Homo sapiens: one gene and its partners. The protein of the gene in region 4 purifies or fractionates together with the protein of the main gene of each other region. This does not show direct contact. Each region holds a gene or a part of one and is shown on either strand. Other genes may lie near its edges.

Evidence for each region.
Region 1: the proteins of SPTAN1 (region 4) and MYB purify together in Homo sapiens (co-immunoprecipitation; 2 studies listed by IntAct). This does not show direct contact.
Region 2: the proteins of SPTAN1 (region 4) and ECPAS fractionate together in Homo sapiens (co-fractionation; 2 studies listed by BioGRID). This does not show direct contact.
Region 3: the proteins of SPTAN1 (region 4) and LMNB1 purify together in Homo sapiens (affinity purification with western blotting; 2 studies listed by BioGRID, with this or other methods). This does not show direct contact.

What each region holds. Positions count from the first base shown.
Region 1 is NC_000006.12:135,211,600-135,219,836, forward strand, and holds the end of MYB (transcriptional activator Myb), read left to right. Parts: intron 1-3,799; exon of another isoform or gene 3,800-3,901; intron 3,902-5,281; exon of another isoform or gene 5,282-6,264; coding exon 6,265-6,381; 3' UTR 6,382-7,573; downstream 7,574-8,237. UniProt on the Homo sapiens protein: Transcriptional activator; DNA-binding protein that specifically recognize the sequence 5'-YAAC[GT]G-3'. Plays an important role in the control of proliferation and differentiation of hematopoietic progenitor cells.
Region 2 is NC_000009.12:111,368,802-111,377,038, reverse strand, and holds part of ECPAS (proteasome adapter and scaffold protein ECM29), read left to right. Parts: intron 1-497; coding exon 498-563; intron 564-1,836; coding exon 1,837-1,926; intron 1,927-3,000; coding exon 3,001-3,067; intron 3,068-3,632; coding exon 3,633-3,724; intron 3,725-3,802; coding exon 3,803-3,869; intron 3,870-4,418; coding exon 4,419-4,610; intron 4,611-5,209; coding exon 5,210-5,418; intron 5,419-6,273; coding exon 6,274-6,317; intron 6,318-6,411; coding exon 6,412-6,604; intron 6,605-7,865; coding exon 7,866-8,004; intron 8,005-8,237. UniProt on the Homo sapiens protein: Adapter/scaffolding protein that binds to the 26S proteasome, motor proteins and other compartment specific proteins. May couple the proteasome to different compartments including endosome, endoplasmic reticulum and centrosome.
Region 3 is NC_000005.10:126,814,582-126,822,818, forward strand, and holds part of LMNB1 (lamin-B1), read left to right. Parts: intron 1-588; exon of another isoform or gene 589-666; intron 667-2,053; exon of another isoform or gene 2,054-4,340; coding exon 4,341-4,561; intron 4,562-6,328; coding exon 6,329-6,554; intron 6,555-8,199; coding exon 8,200-8,237. UniProt on the Homo sapiens protein: Lamins are intermediate filament proteins that assemble into a filamentous meshwork, and which constitute the major components of the nuclear lamina, a fibrous layer on the nucleoplasmic side of the inner nuclear membrane.
Region 4 is NC_000009.12:128,625,587-128,632,586, forward strand, and holds part of SPTAN1 (spectrin alpha chain, non-erythrocytic 1), read left to right. Parts: intron 1-182; coding exon 183-392; intron 393-804; coding exon 805-1,101; intron 1,102-1,417; coding exon of another isoform or gene 1,418-1,504; intron 1,505-1,799; coding exon 1,800-1,912; intron 1,913-2,338; coding exon 2,339-2,356; intron 2,357-3,538; coding exon of another isoform or gene 3,539-3,601; intron 3,602-4,734; coding exon 4,735-4,789; intron 4,790-6,540; coding exon 6,541-6,737; intron 6,738-6,844; coding exon 6,845-6,898; intron 6,899-6,985; coding exon 6,986-7,000. UniProt on the Homo sapiens protein: Fodrin, which seems to be involved in secretion, interacts with calmodulin in a calcium-dependent manner and is thus candidate for the calcium-dependent movement of the cytoskeleton at the membrane.

The DNA of each region.
Region 1 (8,237 bases), on a different chromosome or scaffold from region 4:
GAAAAGGATATTGCAAAAAGTTGTGCCACCCTAGGCTATATGATATAAACTTAGAAAGTCTATCAACGTGAAAGGTGAAGAGACCTCTAGAGACATCGGGGACAAACTCCAAATTTGGGAAAGGTCCATCCACATTTGCAATTGTTAGTTAGGCTTGGGAAGTGGAGTCATTGGTGGATGAGGCAACTTCCAATCACCATCTCGATTTTTATTTCCCTAACTTTTAAGATTATTTTCTATAGAAAATCAGTAGTGCTGAAGTTGGAGTCATTTAATTGATTTGTGCCAACCTAGGGAAGCATTTACTCTCGAGAAAAGTTTGGTAACCATTAATCTTACCTTAGCAACATTTCAGTTTAAGCTTATCTCTGACTTTCCAAAGACAACTAAAGATTTCTACAGTCTCTCTTATAACTGATCCATTTTTTCAAAAGATGTCCCTTTGGGAAGGAATTCTCATTTTTAGAATTTTAGTCCAGAGGAAGTATTTTTTTTTCAGATAGGTGAAATAGAATAAGCAGAAAATTCTTATTTTTTACTGTTTTATATACCATTGATGCCTGCTTATTTTAAAACAAAACACAATAAAAACATGATACCATCTGATGAGTTGCTTTGGTTTTACTTTTTTTTTTTTTTTTTTTTTTTTTTTTTTTTTAGTTTATACAAGTTTCTTATTAGGTCAGCAAATTGTAAAACACATAATTTGCCAAGGCTTTTGAAGCCAGCAGATACTGGGTGAAGTTGCTGTATGAATATAATAATAAGAACCGTTTTTGTTCAGCTTGATGAAAAAACTATTCATGTTCTAAATGAAAATGTGAAGATCATCTAATTCTGACAGAAAACCACCTGTGGACATGGTCTTGTTTCTTTTTATTTCTTCTGTTTTCTACAAAAGATGGCAATATTTATTTAAAGTGCTTTAACAGGATATCCCAGTTAAAGCTTTGACAGACTGTTTATAGTTCACTTCTGCCCAGGGGCAATTAAAGGCACATTACAGGATAAGCGAGATGACTCCCCGGCCACAGGAGGAGGATGTGTGGGTAGGATTATTAATGTTGAAATGAATTATGATAGAGTGACATGTCTGCAAGAGCACCATGGGTTAGTAACTTAACAAGAATTCATATGCAGAAACCCATAATTCTCAGCAGTTCTTTAGGGTAAATGAAACTAAAGTTTAGGGAGAGAGAACAAGGAGAATTTGCAAAGATATGTATGACAGTATTTAAAAATGTTCTTCCAGCACAAAGACATTAATCTTCCTTTGTCAAAATAATTCTTTCTGCATGAAAAGTTGGCATGGGGCTCCCAGGCTTCAGGTAAGATGGGAGAAAGGGAGCGTTTCTTTTTTTTTGTACCAAAGTACTCAATCTTCTGATCTTCCTTGACTTTCACGACATAGGCATATGTCTACTCTGACCAGTTTGTTTCATTTATTGTGGTAAGATGTGCTTGTCTTGTGCTTTCCTGGTGCAGAAAAGGAGCTGCCTCGCTCATGCTTGGTGGCCTTTTTGTTCCTACACACAGTGGTTCTCGTACATGGTGGCTACCACATCCTGGTGTTTGTCTATACTGGGAGAATCAGGCGTTCCAAGTCATCTTGGCTGCCCTAGCTCTGAGCTTCAGGGGATATATGACTCAGAAATGCTATGCTTTCTGGAATTTGGATATTTCATTTTTATTTGTTTCTTGGTAAATTCTCTTTTGACTTAGGAGAAGCTAACTATTTGGAAAGGTCTCTCAGAACTCTAATTACAAATATATGGTACCTTCTTTATATTGATCTCATTTTTAAATACCTAGTCCTGGAGGAAGAGCTAAATATGAATACAGTGATGAGCTGTGTAGGGGATCTCACAGGAACACAGTCAGATTTCAAGTTGAAAATAGATTCAGTTGATAATACTTAGTACTAGATTCTCCTGAATCGACTTTGGGAATTCTGAGTCAACCTAAGGACTATATTACAAAGGATCAGACCTTGACTTTTAGGCCAGGTGTAGTGGCTCATGCCTGTAATCCCAGCACTTTAGGAAGCCAAGGCAAGTGGATCACTTCAGTCCAGGAGGTTGAGACTAGCCTGTGCAACACAGCGAGACCCTGTCTCTACCAAAAATACAAAAATTAGCCAGGTGTAGTGTAGCACCTGCCTGTAGTCTGAGCTACTGAGGAGGCTGAGGTTGGAGAATCAACTTTAACCCCGGATATGGAGGCTGCAGTGAGCTGTGATCATGCCAGCCTGGGCAAGGAGCAAGACCCTCTCTCAAAAACGAAAACAAAAAAGACACAGAACTTGACTTTTAACAGGAGGCATAGTAATAGCAAGCATAAGATTGTTTTAACATAGCATTTAAGATAATTTACGCATTTAGAAAATTAATTCTGGCTGGTTGTAGTAGCTTATCCTTAATCCTAACCCTATGAGAGGCCAAGGCAGGAAGATCACCTGAGGCCAGGAGTTTGAGACCAGCCTAGGCAACATAGCGAGACCCCCGCTCTCTACAAAAAATTTTTTTTAAAAAACATAGCTGGGCATGGTGACACACTCCTGTAGTCCCAGCTACTCAGGAGGCTGAGGCGGGAGGCTTGCTTGAGGCCAGGAGTTTGAGGGAGCTGTGATCACGCCCCTGCACTCCAGCCTGGGCAACAGAATGAGGCCCTATATCTAAAAAAAAGAAAAATGGACAAGAAAATTCTATATTGATTGAAGCCCAGCTAAATAGAAAAAAAAAAATTCTAATAGGCCATTTTAAAGACTTTGGAAAAATTCTTAGCTAGAGTAAAACAGAAGCAATCCTTTCTTTCCTGGTTCTCACATCTCCATTCTCACCTTCATTCCCCTTCCCCTCCATTTGTTTCAAGTATTTTTCTTTTCTATGTGTGTCTTTATGTAAATTTAAATTTACCTACAAGATATTATGATATTAAGATATTTCATTCTGCTTCCTGTTTTGTCACTTGTTCTTTAAGATCCAAGTCCTTGGCTCCATGTGCATCTAATCCTTGCCATAAGCCCTGCATCGTACTTCATATTCACCATATTGAACTATTCACCCTCAAGTAGTCACTATTAAATGTCACACTGTTGTAGCGACTACAAATGCAAGCTCAGTAACTGAAAAGATAACATTAAATTTTGTTTTTTAATTGGTTTCCTGTGTCAATTTCATGTTTCGGGAATTTGTATGGACAGATAGACACCAGAGAGATATGCGTATTTCACCTGCATGCTTGAGGCTAGAGAAACATGATTTATTCAGAACTATTTCAAATACTGTAACTAACCTGGTAATTTTGTTTAGGAAAACATTAAATTCGGAATAGAAGGCAATTCAGAATACCTGTCTGTTATCTTTGTCTTGTCATTTTTGAGATACTCAGTTCCTGGAAAATATTATGATAATCCATCTTGCTATGTAGTATTTCAAGTTATATGTTGAGCCTCTGAGCTTGCAGAGTGAACATTTCTATTCATAGACAGTGCTGTTGACATCAGTGGGGAGATGGCACAAGCTTTGTGCCCTAGGAAAGTTTAAAAGCTAGAACATTACACTGCAAACCCTATGTCAGGAAACTTTGTTGCAGCAACTAGGCAAGGAAACCCTACCACTGTACCCATACCTTGTTTTAGTAGAATTATGTTTCTTTGCTAAGAAGTCTGGTGACTCTCACACCCCATCTCAGCACTTTCCTGGATTCCAAGGCCCTGGTGCCCTGAGCACACAACTTCCCAGGTTCCTTTTATTGTTTCTGATAAGAACTCGAATTAGAGGCAGCGTCTGGTACTCACCAGGGGTGTGGTCCCATGGGTGACATTCTTGCTCCATCATTTCTTACCCAGGTAACCTTGAGTATGGCGCCTAAATCCTCTCTTCCTTTCAAATTGCCTGGTCTGTAAAATGGATGCAGTGAATGGTAGCTATGCCACAGGTGTTTTGTGTGAGAATTAAATGAGAGGAGTTATATCAATAACACTTAGAGGCATGCGGTGCCTATAGTGAGGGCTTGTTTTATGTTGTCGTTTAACCCTTTCTTTCTCAGCCCTCCCCCACTCCACATCCCCTCCCACTGGCAATGTACAAATTGCAGCTTCCTGCCTCTTTCCTGCTATCTCGCTCCCTGGATGACATCCCTGCGTTTCCACCTCTCTCTCCCCTAATCTTAGCTGTTTTCACCCTTTCCCCACAGCATTGCCTTGACAGTTCCTCAGTGTCCCATCCCCTCTTCCCATGGACAACACCACAAACCTGCGCACACGGCCTGTTATTATTCCTCCTGTTTCACCTGTGTCCATTCTGTCTCATAAAGGACACTGTAGGCTCTGAACAGCTAAGGCCTTTCTTATTCTTTTGTCCCATGGAAAATAATCCCTCCAGATAGCAATACCAGGAATAGTGCCTTTTCTAACCCACTGGTTTCCTTTTGAGCTTACAGCCACCAAATCTTATATCTGTTTGTTTCTGTTCCCCTCTCTGCATTGACTGCTAGAGAGATCAGAGTCAAGCAGGAGGTTACATCTAGCTGGGGCACTGTGCTTTATGCTGGTGTTTCGTGTGCAAATCTCATACCATCTTCATGTTACAGTTGTTCCTTAGTGTCCATGGGGGATTTGTTTCAGAACCCGCAAGGACACCAAAGTCCAGGGATGCTCAAGTCCCTGATATAAAATAGCATTGTGTTTGCATATAATCTACACACATCTTACCATATAATTTTTTTTATTATTTGTATACATTCGTGGGGTACAAGTGTAATTTTGTTACATGGATGTATTGCATAGTGGTCAAAGTCGAGGCTGTGAGTGTATTTATCGTTGGAATAATGTACATTGTACCCGTTCATTCCTGTATACTTTAAGTCATCTCTAGATTACTTATAATAGCTAATACAATGTAAATGCTATGGAAATAGTTGTTATATTGTTAGGGGATAATGACAAGGAAAACACCTATACATGTTCAATACACAGCAATTATTTTTTTCTGAATATTTTTGATCTGCCATTGATTGAATCTATGGATGTGGAACCCACAGATATGGGACCCACAGATGCAGAGGGCCAACTGTGTTTATTTTTTCCAAATTTGTTTCCCTGTTATGACTCTTCTTTATACACATTTTTAAACTCTGTTGTCTTGTATTTCTTTTCTAATCATCTTACGTCCTTTTGGAAACCAAGTGGGGCATAAATAGTACATGTTTGCATTTGAGGCAACACAGAGGCATCGCAGGAGCTGGAGACAGCAAAGTTCAAAGCCAGTCCACCACTTACCTACAGAGTGGCCTTGGGCAAGTTACCTCCATTTTCTGTCTCCATTCTCGAGCCTGTCTAGAGAGAGAATGAACCTGCCTCCCGAGGTGATGGTGCTGTTTTAATGAAATAATGCATGTGAAATGTGAAGTGCCACTGTCCCTGGCATGGAGATGCTGTCCTTAGATATTAGGTCCATCTTGTATCTTCTAGTGTATCTTTAAAAATTAAACTATACTGGCTTCATGCCTGTAATCTCAGCACTTTGGGAGGCCAAGACCGGCAGATCACTTGAGTCCAGGAGTTCAAGACCAACCTGGGCAACATGGTGAAACCCTGTCTCTACAGAAAATACAAAAATTAGTGGGGCTTGGTGGCACGTGCCTGTAGTCCCAGCTGCTTGGGTAGCTGAGGTAGGAGGATCACTTGAGCCCAGGAGGCTGAGGCTACAGTGAGCTGTGATTGCACCAATACCGATCAGCCTGGTATGACAGAGCATGACTCTGTCTCAAAAAAAAAAGGAAAAAAATTAAACTATACTGATAAATATTTCTAAAGTAATTGATGAAAACATATATATGACACTTAGCAGGTGTTGATCAATTCCAGTGCGTGCATGAGCTGCTTTGCACTGTGGCTACAGCACTCAGCAGTTTGCTTAGTGAGTAGATGGCCATAGCTCACTTTAGGTATCTGGAGAATAATGCTCATTCCTGTCTCCAGCTTTGTAAAATTGCCTAATAGACGGAAGGCATTAAAATATGAAGATGGGATTATATCTTATGAAGCTGCTTGGAATGGGTTTTCCCTCTTAACAAATAATTTCTGATCATCCATATCCCTTAAGAACACCGGATTTCTGGGGGCCAGGGAGGTAAGATTCTATCTGACAAAGCCTTCCTGGTGTCAACCACTTGCCATCTGTTGGTCAGTGCTGGCCCTGCTGGGTCTATAGAATGAGCTTCTTTGTCTGACGCTCCTGTTGCCATCCCTTTCTCCATCAGCCTTGTAGCAGTACCTGGGAACCTGCATCCTGTGGAAAGATGGAGGAGCAGATGACATCTTCCAGTCAAGCTCGTAAATACGTGAATGCATTCTCAGCCCGGACGCTGGTCATGTGAGACATTTCCAGAAAAGCATTATGGTTTTCAGAACACTTCAAGTTGACTTGGGATATATCATTCCTCAACATGAAACTTTTCATGAATGGGAGAAGAACCTATTTTTGTTGTGGTACAACAGTTGAGAGCAGCACCAAGTGCATTTAGTTGAATGAAGTCTTCTTGGATTTCACCCAACTAAAAGGATTTTTAAAAATAAATAACAGTCTTACCTAAATTATTAGGTAATGAATTGTAGCCAGTTGTTAATATCTTAATGCAGATTTTTTTAAAAAAAACATAAAATGATTTATCTGTATTTTAAAGGATCCAACAGATCAGTATTTTTTCCTGTGATGGGTTTTTTGAAATTTGACACATTAAAAGGTACTCCAGTATTTCACTTTTCTCGATCACTAAACATATGCATATATTTTTAAAAATCAGTAAAAGCATTACTCTAAGTGTAGACTTAATACCATGTGACATTTAATCCAGATTGTAAATGCTCATTTATGGTTAATGACATTGAAGGTACATTTATTGTACCAAACCATTTTATGAGTTTTCTGTTAGCTTGCTTTAAAAATTATTACTGTAAGAAATAGTTTTATAAAAAATTATATTTTTATTCAGTAATTTAATTTTGTAAATGCCAAATGAAAAACGTTTTTTGCTGCTATGGTCTTAGCCTGTAGACATGCTGCTAGTATCAGAGGGGCAGTAGAGCTTGGACAGAAAGAAAAGAAACTTGGTGTTAGGTAATTGACTATGCACTAGTATTTCAGACTTTTTAATTTTATATATATATACATTTTTTTTCCTTCTGCAATACATTTGAAAACTTGTTTGGGAGACTCTGCATTTTTTATTGTGGTTTTTTTGTTATTGTTGGTTTATACAAGCATGCGTTGCACTTCTTTTTTGGGAGATGTGTGTTGTTGATGTTCTATGTTTTGTTTTGAGTGTAGCCTGACTGTTTTATAATTTGGGAGTTCTGCATTTGATCCGCATCCCCTGTGGTTTCTAAGTGTATGGTCTCAGAACTGTTGCATGGATCCTGTGTTTGCAACTGGGGAGACAGAAACTGTGGTTGATAGCCAGTCACTGCCTTAAGAACATTTGATGCAAGATGGCCAGCACTGAACTTTTGAGATATGACGGTGTACTTACTGCCTTGTAGCAAAATAAAGATGTGCCCTTATTTTACCTACTTTTGTTTTCTCTCTTATTTGTCACTATGGACAACAGTTACACTTTAAAGAAAATGGAGCAGACTCAAGGCACTTTCCTCTAATAATTGCACACCATATGCACTTCGTGTGAAGAAGCCAGGAATCATTACAATGGAAAAGAAAGAACAAGCAAACTGAGTTAAATAGTTCACAAACAATCACATGGACAATGGGGAGGAATCTTCCAGAATGCATCAGTCAGGGTCTAGCGGCATTTGAGTGCGGATGCTGTAAGGGGAATTCGTTCACAAATGTACTGATACCACAGATGTGGGCAGGGGCTAGGAGAGCAACAGGGTGCAGGCCTGAAGGCACCTGGAAGGCCGCCTGGAGGGGGACAGTCAGGAAAGCAGGAGCCCTTGAGAGGAGCACTAGCCTTTGATGAGACCACTGCCATCGAAGGAGACCTCACAGGGAGGGAGCCAAGGGTAAACCCTAACTTTGTTTCCCCATTTCTCCTATCTCTGCCTAGGGGTCCTCACTGGCAGAACCAACCAGAAGCTGGAGGACAAGGGAGCTCCCATATGGGAGCCGGCCTGTGAGCCTTCAAGGGTATGCGGAGTCGTTTGTTCAAAATAGCCCCATTTCACAGATGAATCTCTACTGGCTCCATCTTCAGCTTAGTGTTCTCTTCACTATGCT
Region 2 (8,237 bases), about 17 Mb from region 4:
TCACTTGTGTATGCCTTACTTTTCTCCCTTATCATATCTGGATAGTGTTAACCTCTCCTTCAGCACAGTTGTTAGATTAAAATACCTTCATAGATACGAAGGGTAATTACAAAGTTAAAGAACTGCACGTATAAAATTTTCTACTGCTTAGACACAATTTTAAAAACCTTAGAAATTTGTTTAGTCAGTTCCTTTATTTAGTGGATGGAGAACCTCAGGCTCAAGAAGGCTGGATGACTTGCCCAGAGCCATACTATGCTGATTTCTTAACTGTTATCTGAATTTCTCACCTGTAGTGTGGTGCTGGTTCCCCTGGTAAATTGTTGAGTGTAGGTCAAAAGAAATTAGAGTTAGACTTGATGTTTGCCTTTGTTATAGCTACGGATTATTTTTTTTTAAAGTTCTTTAGCTTGGAAGTGAAAGTCTTTTATGGGTGTTTGTGCGGATTATTCCTAATTAATTGAATGTGCCGGGTGACTTTAATTTCTCTTCTTTAGGCTGCGATGGATAGTGCTCGGCTTAGTGCTGCCAAATCTTCTCCAATGATGGAAACAATCAACATGGTGAGTGTCTTAAATAATAATGAGAGGGTTTGTTTGCTTACCTGAAAGTGTAATTCTTCAAAGTCTTCAGGCTATGTTAAATGAAGCAGAGACTTATGGGATGAGTCAAGCAGCTGTTGTGACTCCAGTTTTTTCTTAGTATATTTCTCTTTTCTTCTCTGTTACTAAGTGGAATAAATAATTCCCCAAATACCAGAAACAGTTGGTCCAAATTTGTATTACAAGAGACAACAACATATCAAGAGCTCTCTATAAATTTACATCTGTAGTCTTTTGATCTGCCTATTTAGAAAGGTTCAGAGTTGTGCCTGTGCCTAATAGTTATCTTTGGGAGGAACTAGGAAAGTTATAAGCTGTGGAGGTATTTAATGAAGTAGGTAACATAAAGGTATGTGAAGAGATTGGGCAATGTCGATATGTTGTTTTAGTCATAGGAAGGCATTTGCAGTAAAGGGCTGCTTGGCATTCTGAGGTTCTGATTTCTAAACTTCCTGGAGTCTTGGTAAAGTTACTCTGTTGTGCATTCCCTGTAATGGTTAGTTAGCTATGATTGTGTTTACTGGAAATTAGTTTGCTAAGCAGATCTGTACCTTTAGCAGGACTCTGAAGGTATAGATCCAACCCCTAAAAAAACTGAAGTGTACAAAAAACTATGTTAAACTGGTGAAGAGAAGTAGCTATTTTTTAGTGCCTGCTGGGGGAGTATTACCAAAATTTGGTCTAAGAATGTTATGTCTTAGTTGGATTATTGGGGGGAAATAAAAATTTAAAGAAATAGGAATAGTTAGTGAATACCATTTAGTTATATTCATTAGTAATAGAAAACATGTTAATTGCATTTTCAAAAATAAAGGCCAGCAATTTATAGGAAAAGTCATCTAAGAAGTTGACTCATTAGAGGGGGTTTGGTAGGGTAGGCCCACTGTAGAAGATCAATATTTAGTTTAGGTTTTTTATACTAAACATGGATTGATAAAGAGGAAGTAGGCCCAGAAAGATTCTTCATTCTTGAGTAATCATTATTTTTCTTTTTTAGCAAATTGATGTTTTTCATTTTTTTGTTTGTTTTTAGTGTTGAATCACTGATGAATAATTTTTCTGTTTGTAGTACAATAGTGGTTTTAATATTGAAATCAGAGCAGAAGCAAGCAGTGATTTTTCAACTTCATGTCAAATCCAGTTGGTACACGTTTGACAAGGGCAGTTTTTAATTGAAGATGTGGTCCTGACTTATTTGCCAAGGCTTACCTTTATATTTGTCCTTTTTCAAAAGTGCCTGCAATACCTTGATGTGTCAGTGCTGGGCGAGCTAGTTCCTAGGTTGTGTGAACTGATCAGAAGTGGTGTAGGTCTTGGAACTAAGGTAAGTGTACTTTCCACAAGAGGAAATGTGCATCTTCATTAGTTCTGGCCATAAGGATATAACAGCCATCATGTTTGAAATTCATGTTTTACCACAAAATCTAATATTATACACTAACCATTTTATTTCTGTGGTTGCACTGATAACTGAAAACATGTAACTGGTTCAAGAAATAAAACATCTAACTGTTCCAGTAAGTATTAACTTATTTAGTGGAATCATTTCTGTTCTCTGGTTGCCGTGTACATACCCTCTGGGTTGTCATTCATTAGCAGTTCATGGAAATGCACATCCAGTTATTAGGGCATGGATTGTTTTAGGTGGCAATTGCATTTTTCACAGAGGGGTCAGCAGTGTTTGAATAGAAAAATGTCCTAGTTTTCAAGATCTTTGAAGGATCAGACACCCCCCTACCACCCTTTTAACAACAAATTAATAACTCACATTTTTTCTTATGACAAAATTAACACTTGCTGGTATTTTAAAATTTTAGCATTTATAGATTAGGAGAAAGTTAAAATAAAAATTGTCCAGAATTTTGCCATACAGAGATAACTGCTGTTAATATTTTGAAGTGTTTCCTTCCAGTCTTTTCTGCACATGTATCTTCTGCAGTGTCCTCTTCTAATGGCCGTATGATACTCCACTGTATGGATGTAACATCATTTATTTTACTCCATCAAGGAACATCTGATTTGTTTTCAGTTTTTGAAAAAAATAGTAAAGCACTGTGATGAGTGTCTTCAGGCACACCTGAAGATATTTGGTTAAATTTCTGGAAATGGAAATGTTAGCACAGTGATGGACAAGATGACATATTTTGCTTTTCCAGAAGATTGTACCAGTTTTCTTTCTTTTTCACAATGTCTGAGATCACCCATCTTTCTCTTGGAGGTTTAAAAAAAATCGCTGCATTACTAGTTTAAGAGTTTGCCTTTTTCTATATTGAGTCCTGGAGGGGGTATTAGGCTTCATGTATTTTATATGTTTAAATTTTTGGCACCTAAGCCAATGGTTTGGTAGGTAGAACATTGTGACCATCAGATTTAGACCTTTGCTTTTGTAACCCTGTAGGGTGGCTGTGCCAGTGTCATTGTGTCATTAACTACTCAGTGTCCTCAGGACCTAACACCTTACTCAGGTGAGTTTGTCAAGGGATGTGTGGTGATATTTTTGCACAGCCCTGTCTTGTGTGACAGAGTTTTAAAAAGGAAAAATACTTATCATTCAGACCTGCTTGTGATGCTGTGTGCCTTTTCTCCCCTCAGTCCCCTGACTCCTTCATTTCTTTGTCTGCAGGAGGTGCAGAGTTTATCAAGTTTAGCAGCTTTTCACTGTTCATAAACATTTGATTATTCCTTAGTGGTATAAGGAGGTAAAAGTATCCTCTTTTCCACAGGACTTACCATTGATAGCTGATTTTACATCAGCATTTTTCTCTTCTTAGATTGGCTTCTAGACTGGACTAGTGTTCTTTATATACCTCGTTCTTATTTTGCATCTTTTTCCACGATATTCTAGTTTAATTTTAACTTTATATCATGTAAAAGGAAGCAAATGGATATATAAATATAACATCCAGAAATCTAAACTACTGTGGAGTAAATCAGATGTTAATTACAGGGTTAGGTTTGTTTGGGTTCTGGGAACAGAGTGGAACATTTGGTCAACCAAGTATCAGATTTTTTTCTCTTTATTTCTGGTAGGTAAACTTATGAGTGCTTTGCTGAGTGGCCTGACAGATCGGAACAGTGTGATTCAGAAATCTTGTGCATTTGCTATGGGCCATTTAGTTCGGGTGAGTTAAATTTCTTGCTTAGTTAAATAAAACTCTTTGACAGTTATAAAGAAATACTTAGGATTGTTTCTTTTTCAGACCTCACGGGATAGCAGCACTGAAAAACTCCTGCAGAAGCTCAATGGGTGGTATATGGAGAAAGAAGGTACCTTTCTTTTTCTATTTTATGTCATTTTAAATTTAGATGTTAACAGCCCAGTAAAACAGTACAAATTAGGTCTTACCCTCCATGATTTTATGTGATTTGCTAGAAACATTTGTTTCTTTTCTTTTCTTTTTTTTTGAGATGGTGTCTGGCTTTGTCGCTGAGGTTGGAGTGCAGTGGTGCTATCTCAGCTCACTGCAACCTCAGCCTCCTGGGCTCAAGCGATTCTTGTGTCTCAGCCTCCTGAGTAGCTGGAACTACAGGCACGTGCCACCACGCCTGGTTAATTTTTGTATTTTTTGTATAGGTGGGGTTTCGCCATGTTGCCCAGGCTGGTCTTAAACTCCCGAGCTCAAGCTATCTGCTCACCTTGGCCTCTCAAAGTGCTGGGATTACAGGTGTAAGCCACCACAACCCAGCCTGCTAGAAACATTTCTAATTGATTTTACCTGTTTGTTTTGCTATTATATGAGTTGAACAATAGCCTGTTTAGATCAGTTACCCTTAAAAACAATAAATATCGTAAAGATTTTGGTTTCTCCTTTTCAGAACCTATCTACAAGACCTCTTGTGCTTTGACTATTCATGCTATTGGACGATACAGCCCTGATGTATTAAAGAATCATGCAAAAGAAGTCCTGCCTCTGGCATTTTTAGGCATGCATGAAATTGCTGATGAGGAGAAATCCGAAAAAGAAGAATGTAATTTATGGACCGAAGTGTGGCAGGAAAACGTACCTGGTTAGTAGTGTGGCCTGAGTTAAACCTGCTTCTTAGGAATCACAGCTAGAATTTTTTACTTGCATTCGTTATTCATAAACTCCTCTGAAGTTACTTTCCCAGGACCTTAATATGCATCCCATTTAGTTTTAAACCCATCCAAATTGCTCATCCCATTTAGTTTTGAACCCATCCAAATTGCTGAGTTCTCAAGGTTGGCACTCAGGATTTTTGTCTTTACTCATTCATCACTGCCCACATGAGAGAATATAAACCCTGTGAGCAAGGAGAGCTTTACATTTTTAATTAAGAGTGTGATTTTATGTGGCCTTAGAGTATTTTAGAGTAGTTTTCTAAATGTGTTTTTCACCTTGTCGCATATTAATTGATGATGCCCATTTGTGTGATACGTTCCTGTGGGCACCCAAGTTCGTAAAGTTCTACTATTGTGAGAATAAGTCACAACACCAACACACTTTCTCTCCCTTTGAGAGAGTGGTGTGTTTTAACAGTTGAGAGTCACTGCTTTTAGACTGTTGGTCACTGACTTTTTTTCAGGTTTAGAAAAATCAGTTAATTTTTCTTGTCACTTAAAAGTTGTTTTAATTTTGCTTTCCTAGGATCCTTTGGTGGCATTCGATTATACCTGCAGGAGTTAATTACTATTACCCAGAAGGCTTTGCAGTCTCAGTCCTGGAAAATGAAAGCCCAGGGTGCAATTGCCATGGCATCAATTGCAAAACAGACTAGCTCTCTAGTACCTCCATATCTCGGAATGATACTGACCGCATTGCTGCAAGGCCTGGCTGGAAGAACGTGGGCAGGAAAGGTAAAGGAACCATTCATACCCAGTTAAAGGGATTCTGACTTCATCTTTCATTTTGCATAATAGTAACGATCTGGTTTTGTGTAACTTTTCCAATGGATTATTTTTGTGAACTAGATTTCCTAGACAGTGGAAGCTTTGGGTAAACCTTGCCTGATTAACTGTGGTATTTCCTCTCAAACTGCAACCCGTGTGGCCTTGCATAATGGACAGTAATGCTGGAGATAGATACATTTTCCATATTCAGCCTTCCAAGTTACGTCTTAAACCAACTTGTCAGCATTTTGTACCTGTTGACCTCATGAACAGATCAGGATTGGGCATAGAAAGATCAGGATTGGGCATATGTGAAATAGAGTAGCAAGGTAGCCTGCCTCTAAACCTGGGGCTGAAGATGCCCATCTCTGGGACCTATGAATTAGTAACAGTTATTTTTTTACACAAGAGCTTTAGTAGGATTCTTAACAGTGAACACTCAGTGGGGAACATGAGATTGTGGTAACCTAATGATCTTTATGTTGTAAAGGTCAATAGTGGCCCATGCAGGAATGAAGTAGTACCGGACTGGGAGTCAGACATCATTCCAATTCTGTGGTTGACACTGTTTTCTGTGAGACCTGGGTCGAATCAGTTCTTTAGGCTTCTATGAAATGGAGGTGAAGATAATTATCCTACATCCATGGTTTGGAGTAAAACTTGGTGGATGTGCTTAAAATTATGCATTAAAGATAAGGTGACTGTTGTTAATTTTTGTTGTCATAGTTATCAAAAATTCCTAAGGTAATTGTAATCATGGTTTAGACAGTGTAAATGACATGTTTGGGCTTAATAGTATTTCCTCATCTTTCAACCCCTTAGGAGGAGCTATTGAAAGCCATTGCCTGTGTGGTGACAGCTTGCAGGTAAATGTTCTTTCAATGAAGATGCCATTTCTTAAACTGGACCCGAAAACTGCAGCCTTTATTAACTTCTGATGCTTTTGTATGGACCCTGTAGTGCAGAGCTGGAAAAGTCTGTGCCCAATCAACCCAGCACAAATGAAATTCTTCAAGCTGTTCTGAAGGAATGTAGCAAAGAGAATGTCAAATACAAGATTGTAGCAATCAGCTGTGCAGCTGATATCTTGAAGGCCACCAAAGAGGACAGATTCCAGGAGTTCTCTAACATTGTCATACCTCTCATCAAGAAGGTAATACCACCTGTATCCTCAGTTCTGGTTTATACTTTAAAAAGAAAAAGTTAAAAAATTGTTTTCCCCTATGTCCTGATTATTAGGATTAGTTTAGCTGCAAGTAGCAGAGAAATTCCAAAATACGGCCTTAAACAAGATAGTCAATGCTATGTTTCTCACAAAGCGTTGGGAGCATCACAAAGTGTTCAGGTATTCCGTCTCTTTACAGCTCTGAACTCTGCCATTTCTAGGGTGTGGTCATCATCCTCATGGTCCACAGTGTGTTTGTGTTCTAGGCAGGAATGCAGAGGAGATGAAGCAAGGATGAAGGATACAGTGGGCATGCCATGTCTCTCTTGAGGAGAGTTCCTGGGCACCGCTAGATGGCACTTTGACTTATAGCCATCCTGTTGGTCAGTACTTAGCCACACCTGGCAGCAGACTGAGTCTTCATTCTGGGTGTCCATTTGCCCTCCATGGGAGAAGGGGAGAGTGGATTTGGTAGTGAATGAACAGTTTATGTCATAATAAGCTTTGCCTTGGCTAATAAGCTAAGCCACCCCAGCCATCCTAGAGTAAAGGCAAGAAGCTCAGTGTGCCATGTGAATTGCCTCTGCCATATAGTGGAGGATTTGGGTCAAAAAAAGACTCAAGTTTCATGTGGAAAATGGAATACTCATTTTTAAAAGTTGGGCACTGGTCCCCCCCCCAAAAAAAAGGGTGTGGTTTCCCTGTTTATTTGTGAAACATGAAATATTTTAAGTAACATTCTTATTTCTTATTGCTCCTAAATTGCAGTTGTTTTCTTTCAGTAATAAGGCTATTTAAATAATTTCCATTACAAACATAGTGATAGCATATGGATTTGGGAGACTTGTGTTTTAAGTTGATTACATCACTAGCAAGCTGGACCAGTTGCTTCTCTTAGCCTCTGTTTCTCTATCAAGAAAGAGTTTGGATTTAGATCATTACTGAGTTTCTTCCATCTTTAAAATCTGATTCTAATGCAAGTCTTTTCATGTTATGCTCAAAAGACTACATATGCAGTATTTTTTAGCTTTTGTTTACAGATGCCTGTAAAGTATTGCCTAAATTTATTAGAGATACAGTATTCTGGTTATAAATTCTTGTTGTAAATAGGGAAACTTATGGTAGAGAATTTATCATTTAACTCTTGGTTAATATCTCCTGCCTTGGTTGGTACCCTGATAGCTTTAATAGTATACCTGTAACTTTGAAGAAGAAAATATTACATTTTCTTTTCTTTGATATATCCTAGAACTCACTTGAAAGCAGTGGGGTCCGGACAACCAAAAATGAAGAGGAGAATGAAAAGGAAAAGGAGCTCCAGCTGGAATATCTGCTGGGTGCCTTTGAAAGCCTGGGCAAAGCCTGGCCGCGAAACGCGGAGACCCAACGTAAGCACCAGAAACTGCATTTGAAGTGCTGTAACCAGAGGTTACTTAATGAGAGCGAAGAATTTTCTCTATGACAAATTATAGTTATTGTTTCTTATCGAGCCTGATTGATTAATAATGAGAATTATCCAGTGAAAGTTTTTTGTCTACATGAGTCTGTGATCTCACTGATCATTGTACCGCTGTAGCTAGGGCTGCTGTAAGAAAGTATCACAGACTGGGTGGCTTAGCAG
Region 3 (8,237 bases), on a different chromosome or scaffold from region 4:
AAGCTGGAGTGCAATGGCACTATCTCAGCTCACTGCAACTTCTGCTTCCCAGGTTCAAGTGATTCTCCTGCCTCAGCCTCCTGAGTAGCTGGGATTACAGGCACGCGCTACCACGCCCAGCTAATTCTTTGTATTTTTAGTAGAAATGGGGTGCACCATGTTAGCCAGGTTGGTTTCAAACTCCTGACTTCAGGTACTCTGCCTACCTTGGCCTCCCAAAATGGAAGGGATTACAGGCGTGAGCTGCTGCCTTAAATGCTGGGATTACAGGTGTAAGCCACTGTGCCTGGCTGCAAGTTTTTTTTGTTAACCTTATCTTAGTGGTTTTTAAGTAATGTTAGGCAGTGCACTGGGGGTTTCCAGGAGCTAACTCCTTAGCAGATAGGAGACGAGCAATCCCTTTAGCCAAAATAGTTTTTAATTTCTCTGGGGTGAATCTTTCCTCTGTTCATTATTGGTAACAGACTTTATGGTAAACAGTATATTTTGAGGAATATTTTTATTAGTTGATAAATTTTAGCCTTAGAAAAATCATCAAAAATAAAAATGTTATCTTTTTGAATATTTTCCTATTGTTTGTCTTAATAGTGTTTGTTGCTGAGTCATATCAGTTTCATCATGCTGCCTATTAGGCCATAAGAATTTCCTTTTGGTTAAATAACTCAGGTTAGTGAAGTACTTCTTAAATTTTACTTAAAATTGACATGGCTTTAAAATACTGGTTTTACAAGATATATTTAAATAATATATAGATGGTAGCAGTGTTATGTTTTGGAATTAGAAATTTTACATTGCTTATAGCATCTCTAGATTTTTGACTTGGGACCAAATGAATTGGTTGGTTAGAGTCTGCTTGCCTTAGAGAAGAGTACAGTATGGTACTTAAAAACACCTCTAACTTTTGTTTTTCTAACACCCAGATTCTGGAGACTTTGGTTGCAGCTAGACCTTAATAAACCAGTACAATTACATTACATACTATAAAATATTTAAAAACCCCAAGATCATCAGAAGTCATAAAATTTAGGGTTAGTGGCAAGATCTGAGAGATCATCTAGATAGTTAGAGCTCTTCATTTTCCTTATGTGGAAACTGGTTTAGTGAGATTAGTTACAGCTTGCTTATAGCCTCATAGGTAGTTTCAATGGCAGAATTAGAAAGGAGAATCTAGGTCTAACTTCTCATACTGTGTTCCTTATATTTCACTACACAGGTGTAAGTGCAGCTACTGAAAATAGAATTTAAATATTTCTATTTAAAATACAGAATGATTCAGAGTAACTTTAAAATTTTTATACCTAGATTTTGATTTTTCCCTCTTAAAGAGCTCTACAACATCAAAGGCAGTCAAACAGAGACATCATTGGGTTTATAAATCTCGGCTCAGGTTATCTGTGAATCTTGGGTAGTTTATATCTCTCATCAACTCTCCTTTAGATTCTACCTTTTTGCCCATTCAAATATATCTTCTACCTCTGATATATGAAATAAAGGGAGGCATTTTGAACTTACATGACTTTTTTTTTTTCTTTTGGAGAAAAAGAAAATACAAGGAACATGGTAGCGGGGAAATGGATTTCTCCATTTATAGCATGATTTTTGCAAACGCAGTTAAATGCAAGTTCTCTGAGGTTCAGGGACTACCTTTGTAATATCCATCTTAAGAGGAGTGCCTGTCTAAATAGCATGTCAAGTCATATACTACTCTGGAATTTAATTAATTGATTGGTCAATTTTTTTTCTTTAAAAATATATTTTTGTGTGTGCGTGTGAACCAGGCACCCCCTCTGCCCCCAAATAGGTTTACAGTGACTCTTGATTATTTTTTAAATAACCTTGTTATTTTGGCATAATTTTAGATTTACAGAAAAGTTGGCAAAGTACTATAGACAGTTCTTGTTTTCCTCTCACCCATTTTCCCCTGTTGTTAGCATCTTATGTTACCATAGTATATTTGTCAAAACTAAGAAACTGACATTGGTATATTACTGTGAACTCGTCTCCAGACTATTTGGATTTCACCAGTTCTTCTGTTATCTTCTTTCTGTTCCAGGTGCCACATGCCTCCCCTGGTCTGTGACAGTTTCTTGGGCTTTCCTTGTTTTTTATGAGCTTGAGTCTTGAGTAAGATTGTCCAGGTATCCTGTAGACTGTCCCCCAATTTGGATTTGTCCGGTGCTTTTCACGTGATTAGACTGGGGTTTTGGGTTTTAAGTGCCCGTTTTGTCACATCGTATCAGGGATTGCACGTATGTGATAACCACATGACATCACTGGTGGTGTTTGGTTTAAGATAGTGTTTGTCAGGTTTCTCCACTGTCAACAGCGCTACTATTTTTCCGTTCCCATACACTGTTCATGGAAAACAGCTCACTAAGTCCAGCCTACCCTCAAGGGTGAAGGACAGGGCAGGACTTAAGCGCCACATTCTGGAGGGAAATCTACATTTATTAAATGGCATTCTTCTGTAACGATTTATCCATTCCCCGTTTGTTTGGTTTGTTTGTTTGTTTGTTTGTGTCCGTATGGACCATGGGCATTTACTTTATACTTTGGGTTGTAAGCTAATACTGCAGTATTTACTTTTTTGGCTTAAATTGTTTCATATTTGGCCACTGGGAGTTCTGTCAGCTTGGCCACTATGTCCCATTGTTTTTTGAGCACTTTGTTGCTTTCTGGTACTATAACATGCTCTAGGCTCATCTTGCATTTTCCCTGCCCCAGTCCTAGAATTATCCAGTCTCCAAGGAGCCCTGGTTCTTGTTATTGGAGAATGGTATATAGAAATTAAGATCTGGGCACTGAGTGTGCTCACTGGTACTGGGTATCACTGCTTCTTGGCCCTCTCACCGATAAAAGTGGGTAACATTTTATGTATGCTAACCCATGTGTATGCACATATTTATAACTTTTTCTGTCTAATCATTTGTGTTAAGATAAACATGAATTCATACAGATGTCTCTGACTTGAATCTAGTAGGACAGCATTCAATTTTGGCTTCCTTTCTGACATACCTGTATCTTTTCTCTCTCAGAGTGAGAAACCTGGTTTTTATCATCCATTTACTTATCTGTTCAGCCCCAGTATATGTTAAAGCAGTTTCAAAATTTTGAACCTGTACTGCTGTGAAAAGTAAATTTACCAGCAAGAGTACAGTTTTTATGTATTTGGTAGCTCCTTTTTATCTCTAGCCTTCTAGATTTAGTTTTTGCACATTAGATGCCCTTTCTCTCCTGCTCTGTTGCAGGTACTTGTGATTCTGAGGGCCTAAGCTATCCATCAGTCTTTTTGAGTTGTCACTTTCTGAGGCTACTGAGATGAATTCTGTCATGGAGAAACACAGAAGAATAATTACCCAGCGAGCCACAAGGTTTCTAAGATGAACTTTCTGGTGTAGGATGTGTGATTTTTAATTTTTTTATGCCAAATATACAGCTTCTATATTCACAGTAATACTTTACAAATCACCCTATATTGTGTGTCCTTTGTGTGCTAACTGAACATGAGATAGCCCAGCAATCCTAAAGGGACACTAGGTAGTGCCTTCCACATAGTAACCAGAGTCCCTTTGCCTTGGTTTCTGAATATTCCTCAGCAGTCTGCTAAAACGTACTTTTACCCACTCTTAGGTTTATTTTGTCAGTCAGTGTTTATATCTTTTTTTTTTTTTTTTTGAGACAGAGTCTCGCTCTGTTGCCCAGGTTGGAGTGCAATGGCGTGATCTTGGCTCACTGCAACCTCTGCCTCCGGGGTTCAAGCGATTGTCCTGCCTCAGCCTCCCAAGTAGCTGGGATTACAGGCGCCCACCACTACAACCTGCTAATTTTTTTTGTATTTTTAGTAGAGACGGGGTTTCGCCATGTTAGTCAGGCTGGTCTCAAACTCCTGACCTCAGGTGATCCACCTGCCCCGGCCTCCCAAAGTGTTGGGATTACAGGCGTAAGCCACCACACCCACCCAGTGTTCTTATCTTTTTAAGTTCTTTATTTAATTTATACTTTTGGAAGTAAAGGCTTTGTAAGGGAGCCAGACTTGACTTTTACCAAAACCACATCTTAACATTTTTTTGGCTAAGTACAGAAAAATTATATGTATATTTACAGAACTTACATTTGTGGAATATGTCTTTTATTCTTTTATCAGCCAAAACTATCCTGAGGTCTGTGTTTTGTATTTGAGGAATTTTGGGTTTTAATTTCTTAAAATCTCTTGAATTCTAGTGAGTTAGAGATTCCATAGGGTTGTACTGTTTTCCAGTCTAGGAAATGATTTAAAATAGCTGCCTGGTGCTAATGTTGGAATGTTCCTAGAAAGTAAATATGTTTCCTTGCATCTTAAGTCTAGAGCATGTTTGGAAAGGATTCAAGAATTAGAGGACTTGCTTGCTAAAGAAAAAGACAACTCTCGTCGCATGCTGACAGACAAAGAGAGAGAGATGGCGGAAATAAGGGATCAAATGCAGCAACAGCTGAATGACTATGAACAGCTTCTTGATGTAAAGTTAGCCCTGGACATGGAAATCAGTGCTTACAGGAAACTCTTAGAAGGCGAAGAAGAGAGGTAAGGAACTTAAGGGTCACCCTACCTTATGGTCCACTTTTTGCCTCTCACCCTTTTTATTGAAATAAAAATAAATAGCATTTTAAAAAGAACTTTATTTTCTTGGTCATTTCTTTGAACACCTAGGTATAGAAGTAGTAATAGATCATATTTCTACCTCATCGCAGAAAATGTTGCTCAAGTACTCTTAGTTTATTTATTATTATTACTTTAAATGCTGAACTGCATCAGGATGGATTAGTTCCTTTGAGATTTTAAGTGTTTTGGTGATTTAATATATTGTAAAATGCCAAACTGGCTGAAAGAGACTTTACATATTATTTATTTATTTATTTATTTATTTATTTATTTATTTATTTATTTTTGAGACAGAGTCTCAGCCTGTTGCCCAGGCTAGAGTGCAGTGGTGTGATTCTCGGCTCACTGCAACCTTCACCTCCTGGTTTCAAGCGATTTGCCTACCTCAGCCTCCTGAGTAACTGGGATTACAGGCGTGTGTCACCACACCCGGCTAATTTTGTTTTTAGTAGAGAAGAGGTTTCACCATGTTGGCCAGGCTGGTCTCAAACTCCTGACTGCAAGTGACCCACCCGCCTCAGCCTCCCAAAGTGCTAGGATTACAGGTGTGAGCCACCACGCCCGGCTGGCTTTATATATATTTTAAATCTGGTCAATGTATAAATATTTTTGACACCTGTTCTCAGAAAAGAGTTCCAAAAGGGCCAGGTGCATTGCCTCATGCCTGTAATCCCGGCACTTTGGGAGGCCAAGGCAGGCGGATCACATGAGGTCAGGAGTTCAAGACCAGCCTGGTCAACATGGTGAAACTCCGTCTCTAATGAAAATACAAAAATTAGCTGGGCATGGTGGCAGGCACCTGTAATCCCAGCTACTTGGGAGGCTGAGACAGAATTGCTTGAACCTGGGAGGTGGAGTTTGCAGTGAGCCAAGATTGTGCCATTGCACTCCAGCCTGGGTGACAAGAGTGAAACTCTGTCTCACAAAAAAAAGAAAAAGAAAAAAAAAGTTCCAAAAGGAAAGTGGCTGATTTAGGATAAAAAGCCAGATAATTTTAATATTATATCCGTTGTGATCATAAGAAAGTACAGGTACGAAAAGAGAAAAAAGTACACCAACTATAACAGTGGCTGTGGTGGGTGGTGGTAGATCAGATGACTTTCTACCCATTTACCAGACTTCTTGCATTATGGTTATATTACTTCCATCCCTAGAGAAAACATTCAGATTGTTATTTTTTAAAAAAGAAAATTGACGATGGGCACCTTATGAAGAAGTTTACATTAGTTAAGGTAAACTTTGGCTTTGGCTAACAGATTGTAAGTAATATTTTGCTTTAGAAATGCATGGGTGGGATATTCTTCTTCTTATTATTATTATTTTGAGACAGGTTTTCACTCTGTCACCCAGGCTAGAGTGCAGTGGTGTGATCTCAGCTCACTGCAGCCTCTGCCTCCCGGGTTCAAGCCATTCTCCTGCCTCAGCCTCCTGAGTAGCTAGTATTACAGGCGCCCACCACCACGCCTGGCTAATTTTTGTATTTTTAGTAGAGACGGGGTTTCACCATGTTGGTCAGGCTGATCTTGAACTCCTGACCTCAAGCAATCCACCTGCCTTGGCCTCCCAAAGTGCTGTTGGGTTACAGACATGAGCCTCTGTGCCCAGCCCTTGTTTTTTTGTTTTTTTTTTTTTTAAGGCGAGAAGGGCATATGTGTTTTAAAAATGAATTGTTTTATTTTTCCCATATAGGTTGAAGCTGTCTCCAAGCCCTTCTTCCCGTGTGACAGTATCCCGAGCATCCTCAAGTCGTAGTGTACGTACAACTAGAGGAAAGCGGAAGAGGGTTGATGTGGAAGAATCAGAGGCGAGTAGTAGTGTTAGCATCTCTCATTCCGCCTCAGCCACTGGAAATGTTTGCATCGAAGAAATTGATGTTGATGGGAAATTTATCCGCTTGAAGAACACTTCTGAACAGGTAATAAAATAGACCCTTTTTTTTCTAGCAAGGCTTTGTGGATTGCTAGATTCTCTTGCAATTGTCATAGCTCCTTAGTTTTTGTTTGGATTCATTACGTCTTCATGGAATAAGGGTTTATGTCCTTTTTACTTAAATTCATAAAATAAAATAAAAATTAAAATAGGAGGAGGAAGAGTTAGGTACCCTTAGTAGTTTAAAGATTTGCTTCATTAACCCTTCTTTAGAGGGCCAGGGCTTTTTTGAAAAGCATGTTCCTTTTATCACAGTGGTTCTGAGGATGAGTTATTATTATTCTCTGCCCTAGCCAAATTTGTGAAGAAGTTGGAGCAATTGGATGAAAATGGTGGATATTCTTTCGGTCATTAACTTAATAAAAAGCTTACTGAAAGAAGGAGATAAGAGCCTGGACTCAGATATTAAGGGAATATTTTTCCCTGCAAATAAATGAATGAACAAATGCTAATACTTTACATGAAAAATAGCATGAAGCCTTATTTTGAAATATGTTTAAAAGTAAACATGAAGTATTCATAGCAGAGATTTCTGAAATTTAGGGCTGGGGCTTTCGGGAGCTCTGTAGTGTGGGCCTTCCCTAGCTCTGCATCAAGGAGCTGGAGGCCATGATGGGTTGTGAGATGATACTAGAGGAAGGCATGGTCTGGGAGCGTGCAGGCGGCAGTGGGATGGATGTCACATCTTGAAACATATGTTCAGGGCCTGCTAAAAGTAGTTTTGAAAATTAGTCTTTTCTCACCACAGTTATTAAAACTATCTTGCATGTGGATGAATATGTAATTTGGATGAGTGAAGGAGCACTAATGAGCACCAACAGTTTTAATGCTAAAGAGAATAGGCTCTAAGGTCTCTTTGTAGCCTTTTTTTTTTTTTTGAGTCTTGCTCTGTTGCCCAGGTCGGAGTGCAGTGGCATGATCTTGGCTCCTCCACCTCTTGGGTTCAAGAGATTCTCCTGCCTCAGCCTCCTGAGTAGCTGGGATTACAGGTGCACGCAAGCACGCCTGCTGATTTTTGTATTTTTACACAGGGCTTCACCATGTTGGCCAGGCTGGTCTCCAACTCCTGACCTCAGGTGATCCACCCGCCTTGGCCTCCTAAAGTGCTGGGATTACAGGCATGGGCCACCATGCCCAGCCCCACTGACCCTTTTTTTGAGCCCCTTATGCTTTCATGTATGAGAGCTGAATGTGGGCAGAAGTGGGACAGATGCAGAAGGAAAATGACAGATTTTCTTCTGTTTCTAAGCTTATGTGTCTATTTTAAAAGCTTGAAGTAATCCAATACTTGATGTTTAAAAATTGTGATTATGACAGCTAGATAGTGCTGTAAATTTGAAAGACCCACCTTATCTAGCAGTGAATTTGACCATTTAATTTGGTTCATACCCTGTTCTTCCAGTTCTGTCCTCTTTAAAGTCAAGTACCTTACTAATTAACTCATTGTTGAAGTTACTGTTTGACAAAATGACAGAATCGTGTTTTCTTTTTATAGTAGGAAAACCTGAAATGTGGGAAGATGACCATAAAGCGGTCTTAGTTTAACTGCCTGTATGGATTAATTTATTTGATTATTCCACAACTTTCTTTATCTTTGAAGTAACACCCCTCACCCTCCTTTCTGTGTGTAGGATCAACCAATGGGAGGCTGGGAGATGATCAGAAAAAT
Region 4 (7,000 bases):
CGCAGTGATCTGCGGTCTGAAGGAGAGCAGGAAAGGGGGCATGTGTGACTGAGTCTCAGCAGTGTCCAGGTGGACAGTTTGGCTTGGGCATCTGGGGGACATGCTGGTGCCATCTGAGCCTAGGAAGAGCAAGTTCCAGTCCTGTGGAGTCACCACAAATTGGCTTGTCACTCCTTGTTCAGGAAACTTTTGACGCTGGGCTGCAGGCCTTCCAGCAGGAAGGCATTGCCAACATCACTGCCCTCAAAGATCAGCTTCTCGCCGCCAAACACGTTCAGTCCAAGGCCATCGAGGCCCGGCACGCCTCCCTCATGAAGAGGTGGAGCCAGCTTCTGGCCAACTCAGCCGCCCGCAAGAAGAAGCTTCTGGAGGCTCAGAGTCACTTCCGCAAGGTGAGGATGGGGCCACGTGAAGCTTAGCTGGCCCACAGCTCAAGGAAGGACGCCCACCTTCTGTCTGCCCAGCTCTGCCACTCCCCCTTGAGGAAGCTGTGAGCTCAGTGCAGAGCTTTCAAACATGGGTGTGGCTGGCATCAATTAAAACCAGGGCAAATGAGAGGGCCCTGTGAGATCGCCATTCAGAAGCACGCAGGACAGACTAGAGACAAGGGCAAAGGGTAGGAAGGGGAAAAAAGGCTGGTGAAGACTTGAAGGGGGAGCAGGAGACAGGAGCAGAGGGGAGCTAAGCTCCCAGCAGGCTGTGTGCGCCTCTGATTCCCAGGAACCACCCCGCACCCCACCTCCTGCACTGCGTCGGCACGTCCAGCCCTGGCGACTCCGCCAACTCAGTCTCTTCTGCTTCCAGGTGGAGGACCTCTTCCTGACCTTCGCCAAAAAGGCTTCTGCCTTCAACAGCTGGTTTGAAAATGCAGAGGAGGACTTAACAGACCCCGTGCGCTGCAACTCCTTGGAAGAAATCAAAGCTTTGCGCGAGGCCCACGACGCCTTCCGCTCCTCCCTCAGCTCTGCCCAGGCTGACTTCAACCAGCTGGCCGAGCTGGACCGCCAGATCAAGAGCTTCCGCGTAGCCTCCAACCCCTACACCTGGTTTACCATGGAGGCCCTGGAGGAGACCTGGAGGAACCTACAGAAAATCATCAAGGTACACCTCCCGCTGCCCTCAGGAGCTGCTCGGCCTCCCAGAGCCCTCTCTGGGCCCTGCTCAGAGCCCACACTTAACTGAGTCACGACAAGACGAGCAGGATGGAGGAGCATGGTTTCATCAGAAGTTTCATTTCTTTTTGTGTTCTTGAGGCAGGGTCTCTGTCACCCAGGCTTCAGTGCAGTGGTGCTACCATGGCTCCCTGTAGCCTCAACCTCCCAGGCTCAGGTGATCCTCTTGCCTGAGCCTCTTGAATAACTGGGACTACAAGCACGTGCCACCACGCCTGGCTAATTATTTTAATTTTTGTAGACAGGGTGTTGCTATGTTGCCCAGGCTGGTCTTCAACTCCTGGCCTCAAGCAGTCCTCCTGCCCAGGCCTCCCAAAGTGCTGGGATTACAGGTGTGAGCCACTGTACCCAGCCAGAAGTTTCCATTTCTGACAGTCCAGCAACTCCCTGCTTGACTGACCAGTCGCTTCCCTCCAGGTCCGCCTCTTCCTTGAAGCCCCTGGGGGGTGGGAACAGAGAAAGAACTACCAAGTGCTCTGAGCCGGCCTCATGTCTCCCAGCCTCCTCCTCTCATCTTTGGGGAGGTTCCTTGTGGGGAGGCCACCACCACCCTGAGCCCATCTGTGAAGGAGGGGCTGGTGTCACTGCCACAGCAGCGCACAGCATCTGCCCCCCTTTGGCCCTCAGGAGAGGGAGCTGGAGCTGCAGAAGGAACAGCGGCGGCAGGAGGAGAACGACAAGCTGCGCCAGGAGTTTGCCCAGCACGCCAACGCCTTCCACCAGTGGATCCAAGAGACCAGGTGCCAGCCCGCTGGGGCCGGGGAGCAGCAGCATGTCCCTGCTGTACTTAAGCCCTGGGGAGCTTCCAGCCCCAAGGAGGTGGTGGTGCTTTGTGTAAAACCAGAGGCAGCCTGGGAATAAAGCTGGGCTGGCAACGCCTGGTCGGGCTCTGGAGCCGGGAGTGGGGGCATAGGTGGAGCAGCCTCTCAGTGCTGCATGTCCCAGACATCAAGTTGTTAGAGATCCCGGATTGAGTGGGACCATGCAGGGCGCGTGGTCAGCCCCAGCCATGACTTGGTGACAGACGATGCAGGGTCTGTGCGTTGGGTACTGATGTTCTTGCTTTTGTTTTCCTTTCTTTCTTGTGTCTTCTCTCTGTCCCCCCGATTGCTGCTGTTGTCCGGACACCACCTTGTCTCCCGGCTGCTTGGATCTGCTCTCCACAGGACATACCTCCTCGATGGGTTAATATTGTTTTCTTCCTTCTCTGGGCTTGTCATGTGGGGGTCTCGTGCGCTTGCCCCTCGTGGCCTGGCTTGTGGAGGATCCCGGGATGGGCCTTCCTGCCCAGGGCGGGCTGCACTTCCCCTCCCACCCTTCTCGTCACCTGATGAGGAGTGTGTGCCTTGCCCCATAGCCCATGGTCCCTGGTCCCCGATAGAGCCTTCAAGCCAGGGGGAGCCGTCCTTGCCTCACTGGGCGATTCCAAGGGCTCACTTTGGGTAGGGAAGGTGATGAAGCACGAAGGCCAGAGCTGGAGTCCAGAGGCCCTAAGAACCCCCGTGCCTGTCCAGCCACCGGGCTCTGTTGGGCTCTCACCTCTGCTTCCCCAGCGAGTCCAACAGTGGTCAGTGGGCATGAAGCAGATGGCAGTGCTGGGGGCTCAGGCAGGGTACAGTAAGTCCACAGCTGAGAAGGGCTGGGCACTGACACCCCCTAAGTAGCTGAGGCTGCCACTTTACTTTCCTGGGGTCAGGGAGGGTAACAAGACTGTCCGCCCTAATAGAAGGCAAAAATGCACCCGTTATGTGATAGACAGGACGTGGGAGGAGCCCCAGGGAGGAGCAGGGCTGGGCTGTCCCGCCCAGTCCCGGCAGGGACTTCTCTGCTTGGCCTGGGGCCTCTGCCTGGCCGGGTCACCTTTGTAATCTGCCAAGCCTGCTGTGAAAGCCAGGGCTGCTGGGACTGGAGTGGCTTGGCCTGCACTCCTGAGGCTCTGCACCCAGGCACATCAAGCCTGTATAGGCGGCCAGGGGAGAAATAGACCCATCCAGCCGGGCCACACATTCTGATGGCAGAGCAGCTGGGGACGTAGGGATCGCAGTTTCCGGCCTGTGCCCGTAGGACACCCTGGCCACCTGACTCCCCTCCCTGCCCCATGCCTGTGTCTGCTGGTCTTGCTCTTGTCTCCGTGAGGTGCCACGCTCCCCTCACCTTATGGCTCCTCCCAAGCCCTGCCCATCTTGCCCATTCCTAGTGTGAGCTGCCTGGGGTGAACCACTGGGCCTGCTGCCTCCAGGTACCCGCCGGGCACCAGGTTGCCCTTGCCTGCGCCCTGCCAGCTTGGGCTTTGTGTGTGTCTGTTGCAGTGTGCTCTTGCCTCCCCTCCCTTTGGTGTATTCATTTGGTTTCTTTTCTTTGAATAGCATAGCATATCGTCGGGTCATTCGTGTCTATCAGTATGAAGTTGGGGATGATCTGTCTGGAAGGTTTTTCTCCTTATTTCTCTTCTTACCTCACTGTGGCTTTACTGATGCACTCTTGACATCCCCAGGCGGCTCCACCCTGACTAACCTGCCGCCCTCGGCTGCTTGGGAAGGAGGGGTCTGTCCTCCCACTGCACCGGCACCCAGCCTCCTGCCCCCAGGTCCTGGGGGGCATTTTCCCCGGGGGGACATGGCGTGACTGTGAGTCTGACCTGCTGGGGTAGGAGGAAGCCTGGTGCCTTGCCTTGCTAGAGCACTTTGAACCTGGGGAGATTGCAGAGCTAACCCTGGCTCGCCGGGTTTTAAAAGGGTAGGTTGGGGTGAATGTGGGTACAGGGGAGCCTGGGCTAAAACCCCACCAAGGCCACACGCACCGTGTGATTCGTCCCTGCACGTAACCCTAACTCGTTTGTTGTCTTTGTTTACTGGTAGCCTCTGTGACCTGGCACTGTGTTCTCTTGGGAAGGAGGCTCCCCAGAGCCCATCTGCTCTCAGAACTTGGTCCTAGAGAGGAGGCTCCCTCCCTGGCTGTGTCTAGAGGATGGAACCGGGATCTGGGGTTTAGTCACAGCCATCTCTCTCCTTTTGGCACAGTTGGTCGTGATCTCCCAGCACTCCACTTGTGTCCTTTGTCTGCAGGGTCGTGCTCTCATTCCCCCTAGAATGGGGCTCCCTCCCTCAGGAACCTTGCCGGGACACTCCAGGGTTTCTGTGGGGAGGCTGTCAGGTTCTCAGCCTCCCCTCTGCCCTGAGGTCTCCTGTCTGTCAGGTGTCAGGGTGTGCCATCCCCCACATGGCTGCAGAGAGGATGCTCAGACAGGCCTGCAGCCACCCTGCACCCATGGGGGAATTTAAACTCCATTCCTGAGTCATCCTGGCCTTGGGAGCAAGACGAGTGGGCTCAGCCCTGGCCCACACCAAGGCAGCAGCTTCCCATCTCTAAAACGGGAGAAATGCTCCCTGCCATCCCTCGATCCCTGGGGCCCATTAGGTAAAGATGGCCAGTTGCAGTTAGGTTTGGTTTCCTTAAAAGGAATGTGAGGTTGCCAGGCATTGCTCTCTCTGAGAGAAGGTTCATTCTGAGCTCTCGGCCAGCTGGGAGCAGGCCCCTTTCCTCACTGTCCTTCCACGTTTAGGTCCTGTATGGTGGAAGAGTCGGGGACCCTCGAATCCCAGCTTGAAGCTACCAAAGTAAGTGCCCGTGGGGCTCTGGCCCAGCAGAGACCCTTCACCCAGCCACCCCCCAGGGTACCCCTTCCCTTCCTGGCTTAAAGTCAGGAACCAGATGTGCTATTATTGTACCCTTTTCCCTTGGCCTAAAGCAGTCTAGGGCTCTTCACTATCTCTCTCTCTTTTCTTTCTTTCTTCATGGAATCTCTCTCTCGCCCAGGCTGGAGTGCAGTGGTGCGATATTGGCTCACTGCAACCTCCACCTCCCAGGTCAAGCAATTCTCCTGCCTCAGCCTCCCAAATAGCTGTACTACAGATGTGTGCCACCACATTTGGCTAATTTTTGTTTATTTTTAATTATCTTTTGAGATGGAGTTTCACTCTTGTTGCCCAGGCTGGAGTGCAATGGACGTGGTCTTGGCTCACTGCAACCTCCACCTCCTGGGTTCAAGTGATCCTCCTGCCTCAACCTCCCAAGTAGCTGGGATTACAGGCGCCCACCACCACACCTGGGTAATTTTTGTATTTTTAGTAGAGACAGGGTTTCACCATGTTGGCCAGGCAGGCTGGTCTCGAACTCCTGACCTCGGCTGATCTGCCCGCCTCGGCCTCCCAAAGTGCTGGGATTACAAGCGTGAGCCACCACATCTGGCCTAGTTTTTATATTTTTAGTAGAGACAGTGTTTTGCCTTGTTGGCCAGGCCGGTCTGGAACTCCTGATCTCCAGTGATCTGTCCACCTCAGCCTCCCAAAGTGCTGGGATTACAAGCATGAGCCACCACTCCCGGCCGAGGGCTCTTCACTTTAAAGAAAGTCTTTGGGGCTGGGTGTGGTGACTTACACCTGTAATCCCAGCACTTTGGGAAGCCGAGGCGGGTGGATTGCTTGAAGTCAGGAGTTCGAGACCAGCCTGGCCAACATGGGGAAACCCCATCTCTACTAAAAATACAAAATATTAGCTGGGTGTGGTGGCAGGCACCTGTAATCCCAGCTACTCAGGAGGCTGAGGCAGGAGAATCACTTGATTCTGGGATGCGGAGGTTGCAGTGACCCGAGATCAGGCCATTGCACTCCAGCCTGGGTGACAAGAGCAAAACTCCCTCTGAAAAAAATTACTTGGGCATGGTGGCCTACACCTGCTCAAAGTCCAGCATGGGCAATATATAGCAAGACCTTGTCTTAAAAATAAGGCTGGGTGCAGTGGCTCATGCCTATAATCCCAGAACTTTGGGAGGCCAAGACAGGCAGATCACTTGAGCCTAGGAATTCAAGACCAGCCTGGTCAATGCAGTGAAACATCGCCTCTACTAAAAATACAAAAATTAGGCAGGTGTGGTGATGGGCACCTGTTAGTTCCAGCTACTCAGGAGATTGAGGCAGGAGAATCACTTGAACCCGGGAGGTTGCAGTGAGCGTGATTGCGCCACTGCACTCTAGCCTAGGCGACAGTGAGACTCCATCTCAAAAAAATTTATAAAAATCTTTGGCCACTGCTTCCTGGAGTCCTCGCCGTACTTGTCCTTGGCGTGCACTGCCCTCTGGCAGGTCTACCAGCTGCTTTGGAACCCTCACATTGAAAGTCTCTCCCTCTATTGAGGTGGTTGGGATTTCTTCAGCTTCACCCCATCCCACTATTCCTATTCTAGAATGTTCTTGTTTTACGAGGTCTCAGGCCAGGCCTGGAGCAGGAACCAGAGGGCAGTAAGTGGCTCCTGGGCTGGTGACTGAGCTGAGGGCCCCCGTCTGAGCATCTGTGCTCCCCACCCCTGCAGCGCAAGCACCAGGAAATCCGAGCCATGAGAAGTCAGCTCAAAAAGATCGAGGACCTGGGGGCCGCCATGGAGGAGGCCCTCATCCTGGACAACAAGTACACGGAGCACAGCACCGTGGGCCTCGCCCAGCAGTGGGACCAGCTGGACCAGCTGGGCATGCGCATGCAGCACAACCTGGAGCAGCAGATCCAGGCCAGGTACCCGGGAGGGCTGTGGGCCAGGCTCAGCCCAGAGCAGGGGGAGGAAAAGACACAGTCACCTGCTGTGTGGAGGGTCTGTTCCCTAATTTCTGTTTTTCTTCCAGGAACACAACAGGTGTGACTGAGGAGGCCCTCAAAGAATTCAGCATGATGTTTAAGTGAGTTCAGCCTTACTCGCCCTGGCTGGGTGGGGGGTGTTCGGCAGCAGGGCTGCCTGCTGAGCCGCCCTCGGCTTTGTGCTGCAGACACTTTGACAAGGA